Linked DNA regions of Homo sapiens. The protein of the gene in region 3 purifies or fractionates together with the protein of the main gene of each other region. This does not show direct contact. Each region holds a gene or a part of one and is shown on either strand. Other genes may lie near its edges. The genes, in order: VPS13A, PPM1L, SLC9C1, TMEM217, TMEM33, UFD1 and VPS13C.

Evidence for each region.
Region 1: the proteins of SLC9C1 (region 3) and VPS13A purify together in Homo sapiens (affinity purification with mass spectrometry; one large-scale study listed by BioGRID and IntAct). This does not show direct contact.
Region 2: the proteins of SLC9C1 (region 3) and PPM1L purify together in Homo sapiens (affinity purification with mass spectrometry; one large-scale study listed by BioGRID and IntAct). This does not show direct contact.
Region 4: the proteins of SLC9C1 (region 3) and TMEM217 purify together in Homo sapiens (affinity purification with mass spectrometry; one large-scale study listed by BioGRID and IntAct). This does not show direct contact.
Region 5: the proteins of SLC9C1 (region 3) and TMEM33 purify together in Homo sapiens (affinity purification with mass spectrometry; one large-scale study listed by BioGRID and IntAct). This does not show direct contact.
Region 6: the proteins of SLC9C1 (region 3) and UFD1 purify together in Homo sapiens (affinity purification with mass spectrometry; one large-scale study listed by BioGRID and IntAct). This does not show direct contact.
Region 7: the proteins of SLC9C1 (region 3) and VPS13C purify together in Homo sapiens (affinity purification with mass spectrometry; one large-scale study listed by BioGRID and IntAct). This does not show direct contact.

What each region holds. Positions count from the first base shown.
Region 1 is NC_000009.12:77,184,034-77,187,533, forward strand, and holds part of VPS13A (intermembrane lipid transfer protein VPS13A), read left to right. Parts: intron 1-3,500. UniProt on the Homo sapiens protein: Mediates the transfer of lipids between membranes at organelle contact sites. Binds phospholipids. Required for the formation or stabilization of ER-mitochondria contact sites which enable transfer of lipids between the ER and mitochondria.
Region 2 is NC_000003.12:161,074,231-161,076,816, reverse strand, and holds part of PPM1L (protein phosphatase 1L), read right to left. Parts: 3' UTR 1-2,586. UniProt on the Homo sapiens protein: Acts as a suppressor of the SAPK signaling pathways by associating with and dephosphorylating MAP3K7/TAK1 and MAP3K5, and by attenuating the association between MAP3K7/TAK1 and MAP2K4 or MAP2K6.
Region 3 is NC_000003.12:112,291,417-112,295,620, reverse strand, and holds the start of SLC9C1 (solute carrier family 9 member C1), read left to right. Parts: upstream 1-1,404; 5' UTR 1,405-1,528; intron 1,529-4,204. UniProt on the Homo sapiens protein: Sperm-specific solute carrier involved in intracellular pH regulation of spermatozoa. Required for sperm motility and fertility.
Region 4 is NC_000006.12:37,251,645-37,255,144, reverse strand, and holds part of TMEM217 (transmembrane protein 217), read left to right. Parts: intron 1-3,500.
Region 5 is NC_000004.12:41,955,929-41,959,428, forward strand, and holds part of TMEM33 (transmembrane protein 33), read left to right. Parts: 3' UTR 1-3,500. UniProt on the Homo sapiens protein: Acts as a regulator of the tubular endoplasmic reticulum (ER) network by modulating intracellular calcium homeostasis. Mechanistically, stimulates PKD2 calcium-dependent activity. Suppresses the RTN3/4-induced formation of the ER tubules.
Region 6 is NC_000022.11:19,465,694-19,469,193, forward strand, and holds part of UFD1 (ubiquitin recognition factor in ER-associated degradation protein 1), read right to left. Parts: intron 2,311-3,500; coding exon 2,180-2,310; intron 1-2,179. UniProt on the Homo sapiens protein: Essential component of the ubiquitin-dependent proteolytic pathway which degrades ubiquitin fusion proteins.
Region 7 is NC_000015.10:61,959,448-61,962,947, reverse strand, and holds part of VPS13C (intermembrane lipid transfer protein VPS13C), read left to right. Parts: intron 1-95; coding exon 96-199; intron 200-409; coding exon 410-577; intron 578-1,054; coding exon 1,055-1,359; intron 1,360-3,352; coding exon 3,353-3,500. UniProt on the Homo sapiens protein: Mediates the transfer of lipids between membranes at organelle contact sites. Necessary for proper mitochondrial function and maintenance of mitochondrial transmembrane potential.

The DNA.
Region 1 (3,500 bases), on a different chromosome or scaffold from region 3:
TCATTAGAGTGCAATATTTGCTTAGTTTTTTTCCTTTTGAGGTAAAATTTATGTAGAAGAAAATATACAAATCTTAAGTGTACATTGACTGAGTTTTGACAAATACATACACACATGTAACTCAAACCCAGTCAAGATATAGAACATGACCATCACCCCAGAAAGTCTTTTTCCTGACCTTTCCTAATTTATTCCTACCCTCATCTTCAGAGGCAACAAATACTCTAATTTTTTTCTTTCTGTCATACATACACATCTATTCTGCTTTGCTGAGAGTGTTTTCTTTTCCTTCAAGAATGTTGGAGCCAGGCATGATGGCTCATGCCTGTAATTTTAGCACTTTGGGAAGCTGAGGTGGCCAGATCAGTTGAGGCCAGGAGTTCGAGCCCAGCCTGGCCAACATGGTGAGACCCTGTCTCTACTAAAAATACAAAAATTAGCTGGGTGTGGTGGCGGGCACCTGTAGTCCCAGCTACTTGGGAGGCTGAGACACGAGAATCGCTTGAACATGGGAGGCGGAGGTTGCAGTGAGCCGAGATCGTGCTACTGCACTCCAGCCTAGGTGACAGAGCAAGACTCCGTCTCAAAAAAACAAAAACAAAAGAATGCTGGATTTTGTCAAATGTTTTTTTCTGCATCTATTACTATTATCACAGGATTTTTTTCTTTTTTAATCTGTTGGTGTGATACATTACATTAATTGATCTTTGAATGTTGAACTAGCCTTGCATACCTAGAATAAATCCCATTTGGTCATGACGTGTATGTTTAGCACTCAGTATCTCCAGGGGTTTAGTTCCAAGACCTGTGCAGATACCAAAGTCCACAACAGGGAGGGCATGGAAGCTCCCCACCACCTTACTTTGCTCTGTCCATCTCTTTATCTGTATCCTTTGTAATATCCTTTATGATAAACTGTTAAATATAAGTATTTCCCTGAGTTTTGTGAGTTATCCCAGCAAATTATCAAACCAAATAAAATCAGGTGCGAACCCTGATTTATAGCTGGTCAATCAGAAGCACAGATCACAGCCTGCGACTTGTGACTGACATCTGAAGTGAGGGGCAGTCTTATGGAACTGAGCCCTTACCATGTGGGATATGACATTATCTCTTTTTTTTTTTTTGAGACAGAGTCTCGCTCTGTCGCCAGGCTGGAGTGCGGTGGCGCAATTTTGGCTCACTGCAACCTCCGCCTCCCGGGTTCAAGTGATTCTCCTGCCTCAGCCTCCCGAGTAGCTGGGACTACAGGCGCCTGTCACCACACCAGGCTACTTTTTGTATTTTTAGTAGAGACGGAGTTTCACCATGTTGACCAGGATGGTCTTGATCTCTTGACCTTGTGATCCACCTGCCTTGGCCTCCCAAAGTGCTGGGATTACAGGCGTGAGCTACTGCGCCCGGCTCGATATGACACCCTTTCTAGGTAGATAGTGTCATTATTTAATTGAATTATAGTTAGTGTCTGTTGGAGAATTGTTTAGGGATTGGGGGAAAAACTTCACATATCTGGTTATCTAAGGGTTCTGTGTCGAATATGAGAGTAGAGAGAAAAACCTTTATTTTCCTTTGACAGTGTCTTATCATATTTATAGCTGTTTTCTGTTTTGTTATACTTGTTTCCTTTTTAAACAGTCTTCCCCTCCTCTTTTGCCCTCTCTGGTTTTAATTGATCATGTGATATGATTTAATTTTTTTCTCCTGTCTTAGCATACCAATTATGCTTCTTAAACAATTTATTTAAGTGGTTGTATTACAGTTTGTGCTGTTCACTTAAAACTAGTCCAAGTCCACGTCCAAATAACATTATAGGTCAGGTATAGTGGCTCACGCCTGTAATTCCAGCATTTTGGGGGACTGAGGCTGGCGGATCATTTAAGGTTAAGAGTACGAGACCTGCCTGGTCAACATGGTGAAACCCCATCTCTACTAGAAATACAAAAAATTTGCTGAGCATGGTAATGTGCGCCTGTAGTCTCAGCTACTCAGGAGGCTGAGGTATGAGAATCTCTTGAACTGGGAGGCAGTGAGCCGAGATTGTGCCACTTCACTCTAGCCTGGGCGACAGTGCGAAACTCTGTCTCAAAAAACACAAAAACAAAAATCCCACTATACTACTTCATGGAAAATGGAGGTAGTATATGTAATACTCTATCTTACAATACAGTATACAGATTCCTCCCTTCTGCCCATTGTAACATTGTTGTCATTAATTTCACTTACCTATAAGCTGTAATAATCCAATGCATTGCTGCTATTAGTATTTTAGACATTTTTCTATTAATTTAAGAATAAGGAAGAAAAGACTTAATTTACCTTCATCTCTTAATTCTCTAATGCTCCTGTGAATCTGAGTTTTTGGTTTAAATCATTTTCCTTCTTTCTGAAGAACTCCTTTATTTATTTGTTTTTTTTAATTTTTGAGATGGAGTCCTGCTGTGTTGCCCAGCCTGGAGTGCAGTGGCGCAGTCTCTGCTTACTGCAACCTCTGCCTCCTGGGTTCAAGCGATTCTCCTGCCTCAGCCTCCTAAGTAGCTGGGACTACAGATGCATGCCACCATGCCCAGCTAATTTTTGTATTTTTAGTAGAAATGGGGTTTCACTATGTTGACCAGAATGGTCTTGATCTCTTGACCTAGTAATCTGCCCGCCTCGGCCTCCCAAAGTGCTGGGATTACAGGTGTGACCCACCACACCCGGCCTATCTTAACCATTTTAAGTGTACACTTCATGTCATTAAGTACACTTACATTGTGCAACCATCACCACCATTCATCTCCTGACTTCACCATTATTCATCTCCTGAATTCTTCATCTTGCAAAACTGAACCACTTACCCGTTAAGCAATGACTACCCATTCCACCGTCTTCCCAGACCCCAGTAACCGTTATTCTACTTTTGATGTCTGTAAATTCGAATACTTGAAGTATAAGTGGAATTATACAGTATTTGCCATTTGTTATTGGTTTCTTTTACTTGGCATAATGTCCTCAAGGTGCATCCGTGTTGTAGGAAATGTCAGCATTTCAATAATTTTTCAAGCTAAATAGTATCCCATTGTATGTATATACTGCATTTTGTTTCTCCATTCATCTGTTGATGAATAGTTGGGCAGCTTCCACCTTTTGGCTGTTGTGAATAATGGTGTTATGAATGTGGATATTTTTCTTTGAAGTTCAGTCTGTGCTGTCAGATTTTTGGGTTACATACCCAGAAGCAGAATTACTGGATCATATAGTAATTCCATTATCAATTTTTTTGAGGAATTATCATACTACTTTCTATAGTGACTGCACCATTTTACATTCCTACCAACAGTGTACAAAGGTCACCATTTCTCCACATCCTCACCAACATTTATTTTCTCTTTTTTTGATAGTAGTTATCCTAATGGATATGAGGTGGTATCTTGTAGTTTTCATTTACATTTCTCTAATTAGTAATGTTGAACATCTTTTCATGGGCTTATTGACCATTTGTATATCTTAATTGGAGAAAC
Region 2 (2,586 bases), about 49 Mb from region 3:
CAGAGTTTACATTGGGGTCTTTTGGAATGAACTGTTTAATTACTATTTTCCAGGTTTGTCAGAATAATCATTTATCTGAACCCACTAAAATTTCTATTTGTCTTTCTCTCTCTTTTTTTTTTTCCTGGCTGCCCATGAGAATGCTGAGACATTATCAAATAGATTTCAATTCTGTGACCTGAACTGCAGTTGTGTAAGTGCTATAAATCAAAATCATTTGCTTTAGTAATTGAAGAGTAAACTGAAAGACAATATTGTAGATGTTAATGTTTCAATGTGAACATGTAATAAATTAAAAAGAACAAACACTGCTTTCTATAATAGAAGCAAAAGTTATGGGTTTTCTCCATGGTCATATTTTATTCATTATTCTACTTTCTGCACACTGTATATGCTTGAGATAAAACAATAACCAAGATGATAAATACATAAAGACTGTTAGTTGTAGTCTGGGAGCCTAAATCAGAGGAGTATTCTTGCTTAATGTCCCATGGTTCTAGCTTTTCTCCACAGAGCAGGATTTAGACGTTTTCATTACTACACGAAGAAGTCATCATTTGTCCTAAGATAGACAAATGGGAATTTAAAAGTTATACAAAAGACATCTTTTTCTTGGGTTAGAGATGTCTAATACATCATTTCTACAGGATTAATTTTTTTAATCATATGAGCAACCTGACCCATTGCATTATATGGATTAGAAAACTCTCTAAGAAGCAAGAATATCAAATCACTCTGTGGTTGGTTTTTGTGAAATTGTCTGTCGTAAATTGAGTACTCACTAGTATTCATGTTGGCATTTGCAAAATTACCACTATGTTAAAACTCGCTCCCAGTTGTACCTGTGACTGTGTTTATCTGACTTCAGTTTTACTGTCCACGATTTGGAACGTGAATGGAATCTGGGACAGTAAAGGTGTTGAGGAGAGCAATAAATGAGATCTCATGTATCCATTTTCATCAGAAAAAAATGGAATAGGGACTGCAATTTTACTAACTTCGCAAATAACTGAGAATGTTCATTTTCTCACTTCAATGTTATCTCCTTCACTAAGAGCGTAAGTACAGAAAGCATAATTCATGATGTAATAAACTATAACACCTCCTTTTCTTAATTTAAAATATTTCCTTTTATATTACTCTCCCTTGATTTGGGCTTCTGTATTTTCTTAAAAATGCTTTCCTTTACATTCTAATTTTGACCACACTGGAAACTGATTTTACAATTTTTTATTAAAAAGTGTTCCAAACCATTTTTCTTAAATGTGATTCTGCCCGTGCCATCAGTCCTACAAAAGGAAGCTTTAAAATTAAAATGCTGTCTTCATTAACAAATAAGCAAAGCATTAACCAATACTCTAAGAGACAAGCCCATTTTTTGAATGGTGAAAAGTGGTAACAACTGCCTTTTCTTCATCTATGTGCAGGTGTCAGAAATTACTATTAAACACAACCTATATATAGTAAAAATCTGATAATCCACATTTCTTATAAGCTACTTTTTACATTTTTAATGTCTGGGTATCCTAAAGGGGTTTTTCCCTGATACTTGACTATTACATCCGCCTTTGCTTCTGCATGAACACGTTTTACATCGTGAATTATCTAATTAATATAGAAATATTTTGAGATAATGCATGATATCATATTTAATTTATGAACTGCCTCATGACAAAAGGTAATGAGAGCTGATACAATCCCTCTCCTGAAGTGGCAGCGAGTAACCCGGGCAGGCTTTGCTCTGGGTCACTCAGCCCTCTCTCCACCACAATCTGCCACCAGTGCCCTTACAGTAATCTGCTTGTGCTCAATGTCCTCGGAGGTTTTTGAGATTAACTTGGATTTGGCAAATGTTAGGTGGGATTTTGTGTTTAAATAATGCAAGGTTATAGGACTTCAAGAATAAATGAAACCACATCTCTAAATACAGTCTATGCCTTTGCTGCATGCTTGCTTTTTGGTGGAGCTTTGAACAGGGAAACTGTCTGTGATGATTTGTTAAAATGAATACTTGCTACATGCTCTCCTCAAAGTCCTTAACTTGGATTTATTAAAGCAGTTGTACGTATGATGCTGTGGTTATTACTAAACACATAAAAATTATCAATAATCAACCCTAGCCTCAACAGTTTGCTGTTCAACAGTGGTAAAAATAACAAATAGACAAAGCATTAACATTACTAAGGATCAGCAAATTTACATATTAGAAAAAATGTTTAGAAATGCATCTATTGGAAGCTTCATGGTATCAACTGCCCCCTGCCCTTTGCAATCCGCCACCTAGCCTAAGAGATCTTACTTTTAGTTTTTTAAAATATTTTGGATAATGTGCAGAGGATGAGCTATTCCTAAATATTGGATGTAATTTTAAGTTAATGACTTTTGCCTTAATTCACTCTGTACCATGTTTTCGACTAGATTTGTTTCATCCATGACTTTGGGGTAATCTCTCATAGCTTCCCAAACCTATTTCTGCAGCCAAGAGTAACTACTGTGGAACTACAGGAAGGCCTCACATTTTAGGCAAGAGATAACATGCCAAACTTAACTATGTACATAAAACATGAAAGGTGGGATGATATGGGA
Region 3 (4,204 bases):
TTAGCTTTGCAACTTAATTAATTTTTAAATATATATCCACACATGAACCACAACCCACACACAGATATGTGGCATGTATTTCCAACAATGAGAATCCTTTTTTTTTTTTTTTGAAACGGTGTCTCACCCTGTCTCCCAGGCTGGAGTGCAGTGGCGCAATCTCGGCTCACTGCAACCTCCATCTCCCGGGTTCAAGTGATTCTCCTTTCTTAGCCTCCCGGAGCTAGGACTATAGGCGCCTGCCACCATGCCCGGCTAATTTTTGTATTTTTAGTAGAGACGGGGTTTCACCTTGTTGGTCAGGCTGGTCTCGAACTCCTGACCTCAGGTGATCCACCTGCCTCGGCCTCCCAAAGTGCTGGGATTACAGGCATGAGCCACTGCACCTGGCCGAGAATAGATTTTTTAAAGACCCAAGAAAAGGGGCAGCCCAGCAAGACAGAAAATTTCACCAGTAACTGCTCTACTTTAACCAAACACCACAGAAAAGTGTTCACCCACTCCCTGTACCCACATACCAGCAAAGACTGAGTAGGAAGCTTAAACTTCACCCATACCATACAAGATGCCAGAACCCTGCCTGTTTCCCCACCCCAACCAGAGCAGTATCAGAAAAGGCCTTGTGGGAGCTGGAACTTCCATAACAACCAGGCCATAAAGATGCACCCCATGCCTCAGTTGGAGACCATGTAGGGAGCCTGGACTTCTGCTCCAACCCAGCCAAACAAGTTGCCTCCTGCCTTCTTCATCAGGGTAGTATCAGAGGAGGCCAAATGAAGAGTTGGGAATTTTACCACCATTCACTTATAAACGTGTGGGTCGGGAGAAAGAGATGAAACACAGAGAACAAAACATTAAATACAATTTTAAATAACTTTAAGATATTTTATGAGAGTAGGAATGTGAAAAGTTGGCTCTATAGTAATAACTAAGTAATTTCAATTAAAATATTTTTTACATATTATGTTTAGAAAAAACAAATGAGTATATCATTATTCCTGAAAATTTCCTCACATATAACCCAGAGTGAAAGTTCACCTTGTCATCTTGATTTCATTCTCTTACATGCCCACAATATCCATTCACTTTTTCCCTAACCCAGCAACCTGCGTCCTCATATCTCTACCACACTATCTTATCCAGGAAACTTCCTTTTACTAGAATTCTGGGAAAGCAGTGTCCAACAGCTCTTTGTCAGAAATCCACTGTCCCAAAGTCTTAAATTAACACAATGGCGCAATTTCTGTAGGTTCATTTTCACCCCTTATTTGTTTATTTTTAAAAAATAAAACAAAGCCTTAAGCCGTCAAATGCCTGAGATATACAGGAGCAATGACGTTGCATTTCATCAGCCAATCAAGTAAGAGATGATGGGCCTGAAGCTAACCGGTGCAGACTAGGGGCGAGTTTGGAGCAAGTAACTGTCAGTGAGGTTGCAGTTGGTCTGGGCTGTTTGGCTGTGAGCGAAATAGCTGCCCCCCACTTCTCACTTGCACACCACGGGATACTCCTCCTGAGGCTCCGGATGGTGAGCTCTCCAGTCTCTAGTTTCCTTTTCTGGAAGTTGACCTTTCCTACTGGTACTTTCTCTCTCAGTCTCGCCTCCTAGATGAACAAAGGCTCCCACTGTTTTCCTGCTAGAGATTCAGCCACTCCCTCTTGGCGCTTCTGCCTTTCTTGTGGCAGACCATGGAACACTTTCCCAAAGATCAGCTAGCTTCTCGGTTTGAACTTCTACCCCTTAGCTGCTTCCCCTCCTCCATTATGCTTTTTACATCAACTCTTTGTGAACTATCCAGTGGCATGTGTTCCCTTTGCGTTACTGAAACTGAAAAGTCCAGCCCTAGGGGAAAGCTCACTGGTTCAGGGAATCGCCTCAGGTGTGTGGAGCTGATCTTGAGCTGGAGGAAGGGCTCATTCTGAGTGGAGGGGCATTAGGAGGGCAATAGCCCACCCACCTTCAGAGTCAGTAAGATGTCTGCGTTGTGTGGTAGGAGAGTTTACTAAGGAGACAATCCAGCCTCTGGTATCAATATAAAATAAACCATTAAGCATGAGCTTTGTAGCTGTGAAGATTACTGAGATCCCACAGTGCCCTCTTCAGGATGCTTTCTTCACCTAATTCTTGCAAAACGTTCCAATCTGAAGGAAGAAGACTGTTTCCATGTTCAGTAACATGGTAAATTAGTGTGACTTACGGTTCATGAGACAAAATTTCTCAATGCTGGCTGACTGACAAGGACAAATTCATGTCATTTTTGAGAGGGCAGTCATTAATTTCCTCCACACACAAAGAGAATTGAGATATTAGCTAACATGAGAGATATATATATATATATATATTTGAAATAGAGTCTCACTCTGTCACCCAAGCTGGAGTGCAGTGGCACAATCTAGGCTCACTGCAATCTCTGCCTCTTCAATTGATTCTCCTGTCTCAGCCTCCCAAGTAGTTGGGATTACAGGCATGTGCCACCACACCTGGCTAATTTTTTTTTTTTTTTTTTTGTATTTTTAGTAGAGACAGTTTCACTATTTTGGCCAGGCTAGTCTCGAACTCCTGATCTCAAGTGATCCACCCGCCTAGGCCTCCCAAAGTGCTGGGATTACAGGCGTGAGCCACTGTGCTCAGTCAACTAACTTATTGTTAAATTAATGCAGAGGACCTATGTGATAAACCAATATTTTTTTCTTTAATGGGATTTGGACTCACAGACTTTTACAAAGCTGTCAAAAGTCAGCTTAAGATGAAGAGTTCTAATTATATTGAAAACCTGTGGCCGGGCGTGGTGGCTCACGCCTGTAATCCCAGCACTTTGGGAGGCCGAGGCGGGCAGATCACAAGGTCAGGAGATCGAGACCATCCTGGCTAACACAGTGAAACCCCGTCTCTACTAAAAATACAAAAAATTAGCCGGGCGTGGTGGCTGGCGCCTGTAGTCCCAGCTACTCGGGAGGCTGAGGCAGGAGAATGGTGTGAACCCGGGAGGCAGAGCTTGCAGTGAGCCGAGATCGCACCACTGCACTCCAGCCTGGGCGACAGATCATGACTCCGTCTCAAAAAACAAAAAAAAGAAAACCTGTTTATTCTCATAGCTATTTCCTTACCCATACATTTAACATATTAAGCTACAGTAATGTTAGTATTTTTAAAACTATTTTAAGATGACATCTATTCTCAAATAGAGATTTCTTATGAGATTTTGGAGTAGAGGTTGGGGAAGCCAAATGGTATTTATCACATATGCATAGCCAGAGAGATAAATTGTGTTGAATTTGATCATATATATCTCTGAATTTAAGAGTAAACAGGATTCGTGGTAATTTTATTATTATTAATGTGATTATAATTTAACTTTCATGTTCTGGGATACATGTGCAGGTTTGTTATATGGGTAAATTCATGTCATGGAGATTTGTTGTACAAATTATTTAATCACCCAGCTATTAAGCCTGGCACCCATTAGTTATTTTTCCTGATCCTCTCTCTCCTCCCACCATCTACCCTCAAGTAGGCCCCAGTGTATTCCCCTCTATGTGTCCACGTGTTCTGAATATTTAGCTTCCACTTATAAGTGAGAACATGCAGTATTTGGTTTTCTGTTCCTGCATTAGTTTGCTAAGAATAGTGGCTTCCAGCTCCATCCATGTTCCTACAAAGGACATGATCTCATTCTTTTTTATGGCTGCATAGTATTTCATGGTGTATATGTGCCACATTTAGTTTATCTAGTCTACCATTGATGGGCATTTGGGTTGATTCTATGACTTTGCTTTTGTGAACAGTACTGCAATGAATGTACGCATGCATATGTCTTTATGATAGAACAGTTTACATTTCTTTGTGTTTATACCCCGTAATGGGATTGCTGGGTCAAATGTTAGATCTGTTTTTAGGTCTTTGAGGAATCACCACACTGTTTTCCACAGTGGTTGAACTAATTTACATTCCCACCAACAGTGTATAAGCATTCCTTTTTCTCCACAACCTTGTCAGCATCTGTTATTTTTTGACTTTTTAATAGGAGCCATTTTGACTGGTGTGAAATGGTACCTTCCTTGTGGTTTTGATTTGCATTTCTCTAATGATCAGTGATGTTAAGCTTTTTTTTTCATATGCTTGTTGGCAGCATGTATGTCTTCTTTTTAGAAGTGTCTTGTCCTTTGCCTACTTTTTAATGGGGCTGGTTGTTTTTTCTTGTAG
Region 4 (3,500 bases), on a different chromosome or scaffold from region 3:
TTGTTGTCCATCTCCATCCCCTAGAGTAAAGGCCCCCTGTCTGTTGCCTGTTAGGAACCAGGCCGCACAGCAGGAGGTGAGTGGCGGGTGGGCATGCAATCATTACTGCCAGAGCTCCGCCTCCTGTCAGATCAGCAGCAGCAGCAGATTCTCACAGGAGTTTGAACCCTATTGTGAACTGCTCATACAAGGGATCTAGGTTGCATTGCGCACTCCTTATGAGAATCTAATGCCTTGTGATTTGAAGTGGAACTGTTTCATCCTTTAACCCCCCTCCCCCAAAATTTTCATGGAAAAGTTGTCTTCCCTGAAACTGGTCCCAGGTGCCAAAAAGGTTGGGGACTACTGCCCTAGAGATCGTGAACCCCACTAAGACTGGGACTTTGTTTTGTTCCCTGCTGTATCCCCAGCACCTAGAATAGTGTTTGGAACATAGTGAGTGCTTAGTAAATATTTACTGAGTGAAAGAAGGAAGAATATAAATATTTCTTGTCTTTCGATTCTATGTTGTTCACATATTTTTATGTTAGGAAAGATGATAGAAACAGTGTTTCCTAACCCCTAGTAGGATGTGTCCACTTTACCAATGACTCTACATCCTTGCCTACATCCTTGGTTGAAGAACAGTCTTCTCTGAGAAAGATTGTATTCTTCAAACTCTTTTGCAGCTTCAAAGGAATGTGCCTGTACCTGGAATGATGAGGGAGGGAGGCCACCCACCTAGTCAGGAGATCAGTTGGTAGCTGTCATCAAAGGGCTGATAGGTATGGCAGCCACCCTTGCCCAGCAAGAGGTGTAAATCATTGGTTTGAGGTTCCCAAGGGGTCCTTAGAGGCCTTCTGATGGAGGTCCTTCTTGGCAGACATTCACTGGTCCACTAGACCAGTGCTTCCTATACTATATTGCACATGTGAATCACTGAGGATTATATTAAAAACCTAGATTCTGATTCAGGAGGTCTGAGGTGGAGCCTACAACTCAGAATTTCTAACAAGCTCCCAGGTGACACTGATGCTGCTGATCCATGGACCTCACTTTATAGATCTTCTGTTACTAATACAGTATGGCCTGTGATTGTTTACTTTATCTCAAGAGTTTATTTTGAAACTGTAAGTAGAGGCTTCTGCAAGTTTTTACTTTCCCCCCCTCAACTTCATCTTCATTCAAAAGAGGGTTAAACAACTTAAAATGTGGCAAAGTATAGTTAAGGGATGAGATATGCCTGGGTTGACTGTGGACTCAAAAGAGGTAGGCATATCCCAACCCTTAGAGAAAGTTTTATGAAAGAGATAATCCTTGAGTAGGGAGAGAAAAGGAAAGAGAAAGGCCTGAAGAACTATAGGAGGAAAGTCACTTCAGGACAGGAGCTCCAATGGGAAGATAAAAATAGAGAAAAAAGCCTTTGGACTTACAGAGAGATCCCTGGCAGACTTTAACCTTAGTGAAGGAGTGGAGTGGAAGGAAGGAAGTAGACACTGTGATGAGGGGAAGGGTTAAGAAATGAGAGCAAGAAGCAGCCCTCACAATGCACTGTGCAATGTTGGGCCACCTAAGAGATAGTGAGGTCAAGCTGGGATTTAACAGCAAGAGAGCTTTATAGTATCTAAACAACCACTGTTAGAGCCAATGGCAGAGATCAGTTATATTAGAGAAGGCAAGGGGATAAGCAAAAAGACTGAAAAAGTAAGAGGTTATAGGAATAAAGAGAGGAAGAGAAAGTTTTTAGAATTTGGGGGGTGAAGGGAAAACTAGGTATTTCATTCCTAAGAATTTATTCTAAGAAAAGAAGTCACCATACCTGGCAAGAAGAAAGGGGGAAATCTCTGTGTACAAAGATATTCTTTGCCTTGCAACCAATAATAAACAGGGGAAAATGAAAAGAATATGAAGATTTAAACATGAGAAGAAGTTATGTAAATTATGGTGTGCAGTTTATAAACTTGAACCATGTTATACCATTAAAGAGGGCAAATTTGAATGCTACATAGCACATCAAAAAGGTGTATGAAATGTACAGCAGGGAAAAGGTAGAATATAAAATATCTTTGCATGATTTCAATAAGAATATATGGGTTTTGTCAAAGATTGGAAGAAAACGTGGAAAAATTAAGCAAATTTTGGTAGAGGGTAGAATTATATACATCTTGGTACTTCTGGAACTTTTCTTTAATGTTACCGTTTTTTAATATTATAAAATATACATCACCTGGGTAACAGTAGCTCACACCTGCAATCCCAGCACTTTGGGAGGCTGAGGCAGGTGGATCACTTGAGCTCAGGAGTTCGAGACCAGCCTGGGCAACATGACAAAACCCCATCTCTATCAAAAATACAAAAAATTAGTGGAGTGTGGTGGCACACACCTGTGGTCCCAGCTACTCAGAGGCTGAGGTGGGAGGATCACTTGAGCCCAGGAGGCGGGGGTTGCAGGGAGCCGAGATTGTGCCATTGCACTCCAGCCTGGGTGACAGAGTGAGACCCTGTCAAAAAAAAAAAAAAAAAAAAAATATATATATATATATATATACACACACATACACACACACACACACACATACACGTACACGTGCACACACACACCCCTCACACCCCTCACAACATATACATGTTGACATATATATGCATGTGTGTGTGCATATATATATGCATACATGTATATGTATGTTATGTATGTATACATGTATGTATGTATGTCAACCAGGGGTTGACAAACTTCTTGTATCAAAGGCAGGATTGTAGATATTTTTAGGCTTTGCCAGCCATATGGTCTCTCTTGCAGCTATTCATCTCTGCCATTGTAGTGTGAAAACAACCATAGACAATAAATAAGCTCTCGGGGCTGTGTAATAATAAAACTTATTTTATCCACATTGAAATTTGAACTTTATGTTACATGTCATGGAATATTATTCTTCTTTCAAGTTTTTCAACAATTAAAAAATGTAAAATCCAGGCCAGGCGCAGTGGCTCACGCCTGTAATCCCAGCACTTTGGGAGGCCGAGGCAGGCGGATCACCTGAGGTCAGGAGTTCGAGACCGGCCTGACCAACATGGAGAAACCCTGGCTCTATTAAAATTACAAAATTAGCTGGGCATGGTGGCGCATGCCTGTAATCCCAGCTACTCGGGAGGCTGAGGCAGAAGAATTGCTTGAACCTGGGAGGTGGAGGTTGCAGTGAGCCGAGATTGTGCCATTGCACTCCAGCCTGGGCAACAAGAGTGAAACTCCATCTCATAAAAAAAATTAAAAATGTAAAATCCATTTTTATCTCCTAGGTCATATAAAAATAGCATACCAGATTTGGCCCATCATTGGTAATTTGCCATCTCCTGCAATAAATAATAAAGAACAAATAAGAAAAAGATTAATAAACAAAAAATCTTAAAATATAATTAAAGTTCCATTTTGTTCCTCTCTGATCTCATTCCCCTCCGTCTCTCCAGTGGAAACCACGATCCTGAGTTACATGTTCAGCATTCCCATGCATGTTTTAGAGTTT
Region 5 (3,500 bases), on a different chromosome or scaffold from region 3:
ATCTTTTAGATTTATAGAAGAGTCAGAAATGTACAAGAGAGTTTTTTTGTTGTTGTTTTTGTTTTTTGAGACAGAGTCTGTCTCTGTCGCCAAGGCTGGAGTGCAGTGGCGCAATCCTGGCTCACTGTAGCCTCTGCCTCCTGGGTTCAAGTGCTTCTCCTGCCTCAGCCTCCCGAGTAGCTGGGACTACAGGTGCACGCCACCACGCCTGTAGTCCCAGCTGTATTGTAAAAATACAAAATTTTAGTATTTTTAGTAGAGACAGGGTTTCACCATGTTGGCCAGGATGGTCTCGATCTCCTGACCTCGTGATCTGCCTGCCTCGGCCTCCCAAAGTGCCGGGATTACAGGTGTGAGCCACCGCGCCCTGCCAAGAAGAGTTCTTTTGCATACCCTTTACTCAGGTCCTCTCATGTTAACGTTTTACATAACTGTAGAACATTTATCTAAAGTAAGATATTAGCCCAGAACAATACTACTAACTGAAGTATAAAACTTATTTGAATTTCAACAGTTTTTTTTTCATTTCTTATTTTCCTTTTGTGTGCTCTGTTTATACCATGATCCATGATTTTTTTAAAATCATGATTGTCTTTTAAAGATCTGTGTGTCTCTGTTTTGAGTTTTTCCTGTTTATTTTGAAAAGTACTGTTGGTCAAGATAATTGGTCAATAATCCATGTTGGTTTTAACAAAAAGCATTTTAACATTAAAAATATTACAGTATAAAATAACACTCTGTGCTTTAAATTGAGGTTTTATGTCATTTTAGCAGAATTATAATATTTCTGATATACTCATGTTTGACAAGTTGAAACAGATTTGTTTCTTAAAGGAAGGTTTAATATACAAAAAAAGGTAATCTTAAACTTACGAAAAAGTAAATTTTACAATTTGAGCATTACTAGATGTTTAGTTTGCATGAACTCATAGTTAGAAATTCTGCAATAGGAATATCTACAACCGGCTGATTTGGAATTTGAAATTATAGTGTTACATGTATACCTATCAAATTAAAATTAAGGAAATACAATAGCAATATATAGAATGAATGTAGTAACAGAAATTAACTCTTTACTGCATCATTGAACTTATTGTTAGTTACAGGTTTAAAAGAAGTTCATTTAACATCCAGTGTGTCTAATTCTTCTGGAAGTGGTGTAGTACCATTGTTCTTCTGGCATTTTTAAATATTAAACCTTTTTGGATAGATGGAAGCCTTATACAAAATCTACTTTATTTTAGCAAGGATTCTCTGTCCTTTTGTATAGTTGGTACCTTACTAATTTAAACTCTAATATCAATCTAAAGAGAAATTTATTATGCAATTTGTATTTAGGTTTTTTTTTTTTTTTTTGGAATGAAGTTCAGAGGTAGATCCTCCTGGAAGAAAGAAAGCAAGCGAACTTTTTAAAGAAAATTAGACTTGAATATTTAAGAATGTCCCTTACAGAGAAAAGGCCAACTATAATACTAAGCTAAAAGTTATGAAAAATTAATAGGTTCTTTTATAGAGCTAAGAATGATGAAACCATCAATACTTCCTTCTTCCTAAAAATCCAGATCAAAACTTCAGGTTAGGTTTCTAAGTTTAGGACATGAATATTATTTTTTTCTGGAAAAGAAGATGAGTATATGTGTAATAAGACAAGTAGAACTGAGAGATTTAGTTTTTTTTTTTTTTAAGTTTTAGTTCAGAATAACATTAATTTTGAGAGATTGAGGTAAAGAACCTTAACTAATGCTAAGGAGTTTATTTTGATTAACATAGGTTATTCTGACCACCACCTCTTCCTTCCTTAATCTCCTTAGAATCTGACAGTCTCAAAGCTGTCACACAAATTAGACTAATTTTGACACTTTGAAATGAAAACTTCAAGGAAGAAGTAGCCACGGACAGTTATGTTTATAATCAGTAGGTGGCACTCTTTCCTCAGGTAGCCCCCCATTTTCACATGATGTGTTTGAAGGTTAAATGCCACCAAAAGTGCTGAGTCAGCTATAAAACTAAGTCCCTGAATTCCATGGCCCTTTTAAATATGTAATCATTCAAGATTGAAAAAAAAAATTAAGCATTTTTTGTTTGTTTGCTTGTTTGTTTTTGAGACGGAGTTTCACTCTTGTTGGCCAGGCTGGAGTGCAATGGCGCCATCTCAGCTCACTGCAACCTCTGCCTCCCGGATTCAAGCAATTCTCCTTCAGCCCTCCAAGTAGCTGGGGTTACAGGTGCCCGCCACCATGCCCAGCTAGTTTTTGTATTTTTAGTAGAGATGAGGTTTCACCATGTTGGCCAGGCTGGTCTTGAACTCCTGACCTCGTGATCCCCCCACCTCGGCCTTCCAAAGTGCTGGATTACAGGCGTGAGCCACTGTGCCTGGCTTGCATTTTTAAAATACTGAATTATTCAAAAGAAGTACCCTGTCAATATGTGCTTTCTAGGAAAACAGTAAAATAGGCCACAATTTGGAGTGACACCATTCAGATCAAGGTCTATCCAGTTTTTTCTTTTCATGCTAAGTGCCTACATCACCGAAACACACTAATATAAAATTATCCTTTCTCCTTCATTTTCAGATGTGTAAAAAATGGTACTTAAAGTGTTTTCATGATCATTTTGTAGGTAGACTAGATATAGCCCGTTGAACCTCTTTTAAAATTTAGACTTTTGATAGTAATATAAAAGCATATTGAAATTTGTAGATATTATATGAGGAATGGCACCTAGATTTGAAAATTATGCTTGGCTTGTAGAGACAACTAGTTTCTCTCGCTCTTTTTTTTTTTTTTTTTTTTTTTTTTGAGACAGATTCTCACTCAGTTGCCCAGGCTGGAGTGCAGTGGTGCAGTCTTGGCTCACTGCAACCTCTGCCTCCTGGGTTAAAGCGATTCTCATGCCTCAGCCTCCCTAGTAGCTGAGACTACAGGCGTGCACCACCACGCCCAGCTAATTTTTGTATTTTTAGTAGAGACAGGATTTCACCATGTTCACCATGTTGGTCAGGCTGGTCTTGAACTCCTGGCCTCAAGTGATCTGCCCGCCTCGACCTCCCAGAGTGCTGGGATTATAGGTGTGAGCCACTAAGCCTGGCTGAGACAACTAGTTTCCCTTAACTCATTGGAATTCTCTAGGATTAGGAGAATTCCACAGAGCCTATATGATATTATAGCTCAACATTTAGTATACCAAAGGCATACCCGTGTAAATCTAGGAGTTATTTCCAGAGATTGTTTTAAGGAGCAGTCTTATATTCAGGGTAGAAAGTTATGATTGGATCTGCTGTTAAGGAGAACAAAGGAGCTTCTAAAGGTTTGGGAGGTTTACTGGTAGTAACTATTCTAGGAAATATTTATGTTTTAAGGTGATGTTCACATGGGTTCTTTAGAAGGAACATAGTCAAGTGTGATGGATTAACTCTATATAGTCTTTCTCCTCTTGTGCGTGTAGGAAATCTGACCTGCAGTGTCAGTTGATGTGACAAGAGATAAAGAAAGCACAGTATT
Region 6 (3,500 bases), on a different chromosome or scaffold from region 3:
GCTGAACTGTGTGCATTTTATTGTATACAAATTATACCATGGGATTTTAAAAAATCCTGTGGGAGTACTAAAGAACAAAAAAGATTTAATGAGTCAGATAGGTCCTCTCAAAAGTTCCTCAAAATCAAAGATGCTTTCATTTATACTTCTGTTGTTTCTATCTTTTGAGCTGATAACTTTAGTTAATAGAAATTAAAATAAAGAAACCAGCAAATACTTTTTATAACAGTAAAACTGTAGAACCCAAATGCCCACACAAGGAAATGTCTATTCATGTGGAATATTTTGCCATGTCTTCCTCATCAATTTGCTGAAGGACTTTACATAAAAAGGTCACATGAAATGTGGCTCCAGAGCCTGCCACTGTGAGTCCAACTTGAGGGTGAAAGGGTGAGGCTATCTAGGTTCACCTCGCTTGGTCAAACAGCTTTCCAGAACCAGAGCAACTTTGTGAAAAGCGCCTTATGTGGTGGATGCTTTCTTTGCTCCCAAATATGAAGTGCCACGGTACGAAGTGCCCTTCCCTCCACTCCTCTAGTGACCCTGCCAGGGCATCTTCTCTGACTTCCACTGCAGCAGCTGGAGGAGCAGAGCCAGAGCCCTCAGGCTGAGAACACGAGGCCTCTGCAGGCAGGGCGGGCTCCCCATATGGCCTCTGCGTACTCTGGCACCTGCTGCAGCACCAGCTTCCCACTTTCTCTGCTCGGTGCCAAGACTGCTTTCATCCAGACCTCAGCCAGACCAGAAAACACCAGGCTCTCAACTGATGGAAGTGACGCCCTTTCTCCACACACTAACAAGTTAATTGTGCTGACAAAACAGCATCTGAGATCAACCTGATAAGTCTGCATTGGGGCAGGGCGCGGTGGCTCATGCACGTAATCCCAGCACTTTGGGAGGCTGAGGCAGGTGGAGCACCTGAGGTCAGGAGTTCGAGACCAGCTTAGGCAACATGGTGAAACTCCGTCTCTACTAAAAATACAAAAATTAGCCGGGTGTGGTGGTGCACACCTGTAATCCCAGCTACTCAGGAGGCTGAGGCAGGAGAATCACTTGAATCTGGGAGGCAGAGTTTGCAGTGAGCTGAGACCGTGCCACTGCACTCCAACCTGAGCAGCAGAGTGAGACTCCGTCTCAAAAAAAAGTCTGCATTGCAACACATGTAAAAACCCTGAGAAAATGGGCATGGCCCATTCCTGGTCACTGACAGCCAAACAAGCATGTCTAGGTCAGAGCTCTGAAGGACAAGTTAACTAGCTCTTCCCATAGGACATCCCCCTGCCTGTGGGACAGGAGGCTCAACAAGGCCATCGTGTCCAGAACATAGGCAGCAAAGAATATACATGGCCCATATGCATCCAGAGCACACCCAGCAGTGCCTTGCTCCTAAGAAAACATGCGGAGAGAGCGCTACTGGGAAAGGAGGCAGCTTTTCTTAACTTCCTATCTGTCTGTGTTGTTTGACTGTTTGTTTTTTTTTTCAAGTATGCATTAAAAAAAAATAAAAAAAAAGAAGTAGAATGGAGTGGCCACTCTTATGCCATGATCGTAACAGGAAAAATCAGGGCCATGGAGCTAGAGATCTTGATTGGTGCACACAGCACCGTCCCGTACCTGCACTGCCTACTTCCTGATGCTGTCAACACATACACCTGGCTTAAGTTCAGAGGTGAACAAAAAGAATCCACTAGAACCTGATACCTTTGCTTTCTGCTTGGTGACATAGAAACTGCAGTCATTGCTACCTATTGGCCTGGAGTGAATCAGCTCTCAGGCTGGCATGCAGTGAGGTTGACGGGCCAGTGCACAGCTGGGCGGAGGTACTAGGGAGCCACAGAAGGGGCTGGAGCTGAAGGCAGATAAGCTGCTCCCTCCTTCCACTGGACATACTGTGCATCCTGGCTTTGTGCCAGGTGACACAGACCAACTGAAAGAAGGGCTTCATTGTGGTCTCCATGAAGTGTCTGGAAAGTGACAGAGGTGGCCCAGACAGCACCCAGTGCACTTGGCCAGGGCCACGCAGATGTGCTAGCTGAACCCCATTATTCTCAAATCACAACTTGAATCACAAATGTGTGATCCCCAAAGCAGGCACAGATTCAATACAGTACATGATGTTTAACAACCGCCAGCACACTCTCCTTTGTCTAGAAGAACTCCGCTTATTTGAAAAAGATACACGGCTTTGGGGTTGGTGATGTCCAGGAAGTCAGGGCTCTGAGGTTGGAATTTGGAGTAGGTGGCCACTTGAAGGTTGACGCTCTCCACCTGGACCAGGCCGCCTTCTTCCAAGAGTAAGTTCTGCATCATCTGAAAGGAAGAAGAGGCTACATGAGACTCCTAGAGATGAAGCAGCCTCCACAACCACTGCTCCCTATACACTGGGCAGGCCCGTCTTACTTGGGTCCTTGGAAGAGGAACCTGAGCCAAGATAAGTAATTCGTGATACTATGTCAGGAAGGAGGGAAAAATCAAGTGATGTGGAAGGAAGAAGGCCAATAAAGGGGTGCTACTGAAGCTGTATAGCTCACAGTGTGAACGCATCTCTGCAGGGCTGCCCGGATTACTCACTAGCTCCAGGCTTCCCAGGGGCAGAGCATTTTCCTGGAATAGTCACTCACTGTACTTCCAAGCTGTCCCACAAGCAAATTATAAGGCCCTGCGTCAAGTAGGGCTGCACCTGAGGTAGGACAAAAGCAGCACAAGGCAAGGCTGACCTGGCAATGGAATGGCCCACCACAGCTGAGGCTGCAAGATGGTGACAGACCCCAGAGGTCTCTGCTAAGGAGGTTATAAAAATCTGACAAAGCCTCCACATGTCTCTATTAAACAACCCAGCCAGGTAGACGACGGCTGAGAAGTGAGACGGAAAGAGATAAACAATGCCCATGAGTACTGGGTGTGCAGGGAGTCCAGACTCAGGTCAGAAGCTCTATGTCTCTTGCAATGAAATTTTGCTTGTCTTATTTGAAACCGTCTTAAAAGGGGTGTCAGACATATACATCAGTAGAAAGAGCCGTAGAAGAGAGCTCCCACGCACCGAGCCCTGACAGTTGGACAGTGCTCACGTCGTGGCTCAGTCCATCGATCAGCACTACCTCACACCCAGTCCCAAGCCACATTAGATGCCCTGAAGCAAATCCCAGGTATCACATCCCTTCAAGAATGTTTCATCGGGAGTGGCAGTGAGAAGGTGACTTTAACAGCCAAGGGAAAAGGGGGCTGAGGGCTGTGTCACAAATGAGAGGGAGCTCATGAGGAGGGAGAGGCATGCTGAGGCCGAGGCTGTGCCTGGGAAGCCGTGCCTAGGCCATGAGTGAAGCCTGAGTGGTGGGCCCTATGGATAGGCTTGCAGAGGACCCCATGCACTCACGCTGACAGCTGCTTGTCAGGCTAGTAAGGGCAGAAATAGAGGGTGGTCACTCTACCAAATGCCACAGGCAGGCACAGAAGGATGCAGAGGTGACTGGCTTTGGTAACGGGGGTCTGGCATCCCCAGG
Region 7 (3,500 bases), on a different chromosome or scaffold from region 3:
AAAAAAGTCACCCCAAAATAAAATAATGTAATGGAAAGAAAGATCTTATTTATGGTAGGTCTGTAGAAATTATAATAATACACTCTTTTTTTCAGGACTGGATTCCTCCCTTTCTCTCCAGTCAAGAAAGCAGTCACTTTTTGCCCGACTAGAAAATATTATTGTCACAGATGTTGATCCAAAGACAGTTCATAAGAAAGTAGGTGATTGTAAACAGATAGTTAATATTCTTTAATGACTGAATATGAGCTTCTATTGTAAAATGTATTTTATTTTAAAAACATTAATGAAATATATTTCAATAGAAAAATTTTTTTATAAAGATTATAAATGTAAAGCCTTTTGTAAATGAGATTTTATTTTGTCATTACCTTCCCGGATAGAGTACATTCAAGTCTCTGTTTTTCAGGCTGTGTCAATAATGGGAAATGAAGTTTTCCGTTTTAATTTGGATTTGTATCCAGATGCTACTGAGGGGGATTTGTATACTGACATGTCCAAAGTGGATGGTGTGCTGTCTCTGAATGTTGGCTGTATTCAGATTGTCTATCTTCATAAATTCCTTATGTCACTTCTGGTAAAATAATTATTTGTATATTGATTTTTCAACTTTGAAATATTTTAAAAGTGTGATAATTATGATGGCAAATGTTATAAACCTTGGATTTTAGAGTGGGCATTATTTTAATTATATTTATGCGTGAATGTAGAGATCAAAACCCCTATTTAACAGTTGAAAAGTGAATCATTTAATGATTTTTGTCTAGAACAAATTATTTTTGCTACAATATAATGAAGCCAGATTCTTTAGTATAAAAATTATTGGAAAAAAATTTTTCTCTGTTCCTTAACCATATAACATTAGCTCAGTTCAGGCAGCTCATAGTTATAGATGGATTATCCGTAATTTCTTAATACTGCTAGAAAAATAGGGCTCAATGGAAAGTTAAATATTGGAAAAAAAAAGTTACCACATGTATGAAAAGAAGATAGTGTTATTATTGATGTGCCTGTATTCTCTTTGAATTTCTCTTTTTATGCTTTGTGTCCACAGAACTTCCTGAATAATTTCCAGACAGCCAAAGAGTCTCTGAGTGCTGCCACTGCCCAGGCTGCAGAAAGGGCTGCCACAAGTGTGAAAGATCTTGCCCAGAGGAGTTTTCGTGTTTCCATCAATATTGATTTGAAAGCACCGGTTATAGTCATCCCACAGTCTTCTATTTCCACCAATGCAGTAGTGGTAGATCTTGGGTTAATCAGAGTTCATAATCAGTTCAGTCTGGTGTCTGATGAAGACTACTTAAATCCTCCAGTAATTGATAGAATGGATGTGCAGCTAACAAAGCTTACACTTTATAGGTATGCTCTTTCAATAATTATGGATTTAAATATTATATTCATGATTTCCATGAAATTTTATGACTTGAAATTCCTACCCAACACAGTTTATTCAAATAAACTGTTCCATTACACGGAACAGTTTTTTTTATTGTTGTCATTGTTTTGTGTGTGTGTGTGTGTGTGTGTGTGTGTGTGTGTGTGTGTGTGTGTGTTTTGAGTTGGAGTCTTGGTCTGTCACCCAGGATGGAGTGCAGTGGCGTGATCTCGGCTCACTGCAACCTCTGCCTCCTGGGTTCAAGCAATCCTCCTGCCTCAGCCTCCCGAGTAGCTGGGACTATAGACATGTGCTACCATGCCTGGCTAATTTTTTTTGTATTTTTAATAGAAATGGGGTTTCACCATGTTGGCCAGGCTGGTCTCAAACTCCTCACCTCAGGTGATCCACCTGCTTTGGACCCCCAAAGTGCTGGGATTACAGGTGTGAGCCACCGCGCCTGGCCCAGAAGAGTTTTTTATTTTGTGTTTTGAGATGAAGTCTTGCTCTGTCGCCCAGGCTGGAGTGCAATGGTGCAGTCTTGGCTCACTGCAACTTCTGCATCCTGGATTCAAGTGATTCTCCTGCCTCAGCCTCCTGAGTAACTGGGACTATAGGCACGTGCCATCATGCCTGGCTAATTTTTTTGTATTTTTCGTTATAGAGATGGGGTTTCACCATGTTGGCCAGGCTAGTCTCAAACTCCTGATATCAGGTGTTCTGCCCATCTTGGCCTCCCAAAGTGCTGAGATTACAGGCATGAGCCATCGCACCAGGCCACCAGAACAGTTTTTTAATCAACTTTTGTTTTAAAAAATTTCAGACCTACAGAAAAATGGAAAAAAATAGTACTGTGAATGCACCTACATATCCTTCATCTAGATTCACCAGTTGTTTATATTTGCTTTAACCTATCTATAAACATATACATATTATTTAAAACATTTTTTGCTAAATCATTTGAGAATAGACATCTTTAACTTTTTGTCCCTAAATACTTTATCATATGTCTCCTATAAACAAGGACATTCATTCTCTTATATTAACTATGATATAATTCTAGAAATTTAATATCGATGTAATACTATAATCTGAAATTCAGTCAATATTCAGATTTTACCAGTTGTCCCATTATAATAATTCGCATTATAGGAATGTCCATTATAAAAATTTCTCCCTGATTCAGGATCACCCATAGCGTATAATTGTATTCTGTACTATTGAGGAAGATTTCTGTACTGACAGAAATTTATTTTGGAGTAGTTCTTCAGCTTTTCTTTGTCTTTTTATGACTACATGACTACTACTGTAGTTTTGAAGACTACAGTCCGGTTCCACTCACCTCTCAATTTGGTTGTGTCTGAGTGATTCCTCATGGTTTGATTGAACTTACACATTTTTGGCAGGCATGTTGTGTAAATTATTTTGTATCTTCAGTGCTCATACCAGGTGGCACATGAAATCTGTACATAATTCATTTTAAAATTATTTTCTACCCCATCCATGAAGATTTAATTATGTAGAATAAAAAATTAATGACTACAAGGCAAGTCTAGAAAATAATCCTAGAGAAAACCTTTATGAAATGCCTTGGAAAATGCTAACTCCTCTTGTTCACTTTGCCATCATTTTCTTCAGTCTCTGCACCAACATACCTATTAATCCTTGAACAACTGTATATGATGATTTTCTGTATTTCTTCAATGGTGTGGATTGCTTTTAAAAACTTATTCAATTTTTCACCTATCTACTGTTTAAAGAAAAAAGTTTTCTTAATGGTTCATTGTATATCACCTTTTAATTTGTCCCTTCTAGTGGATTATAGATTAATTATAGGTTCAGTTTTGAAAATACTCAAGCCACACTGTTTCAGATCAGTATTTAGAGCAGCAAATAACTGCTTGACTTTGCTTTTTTTTAATATGTTGCATTTCTACCCTATATCTATGCATTATGTAACATTTCTGTTTTTCGTAGGACAGTGATCCAGCCAGGCATCTACCATCCTGATATTCAGCTGTTGCACCCAATTAACTTGGAATTTCTTGTAAATCGGAATCTAGCTGCATCTTGGTACCACAAGGTGCCTGTTGTGGAAATTAAAGGACATCTTGATTCAATGAAT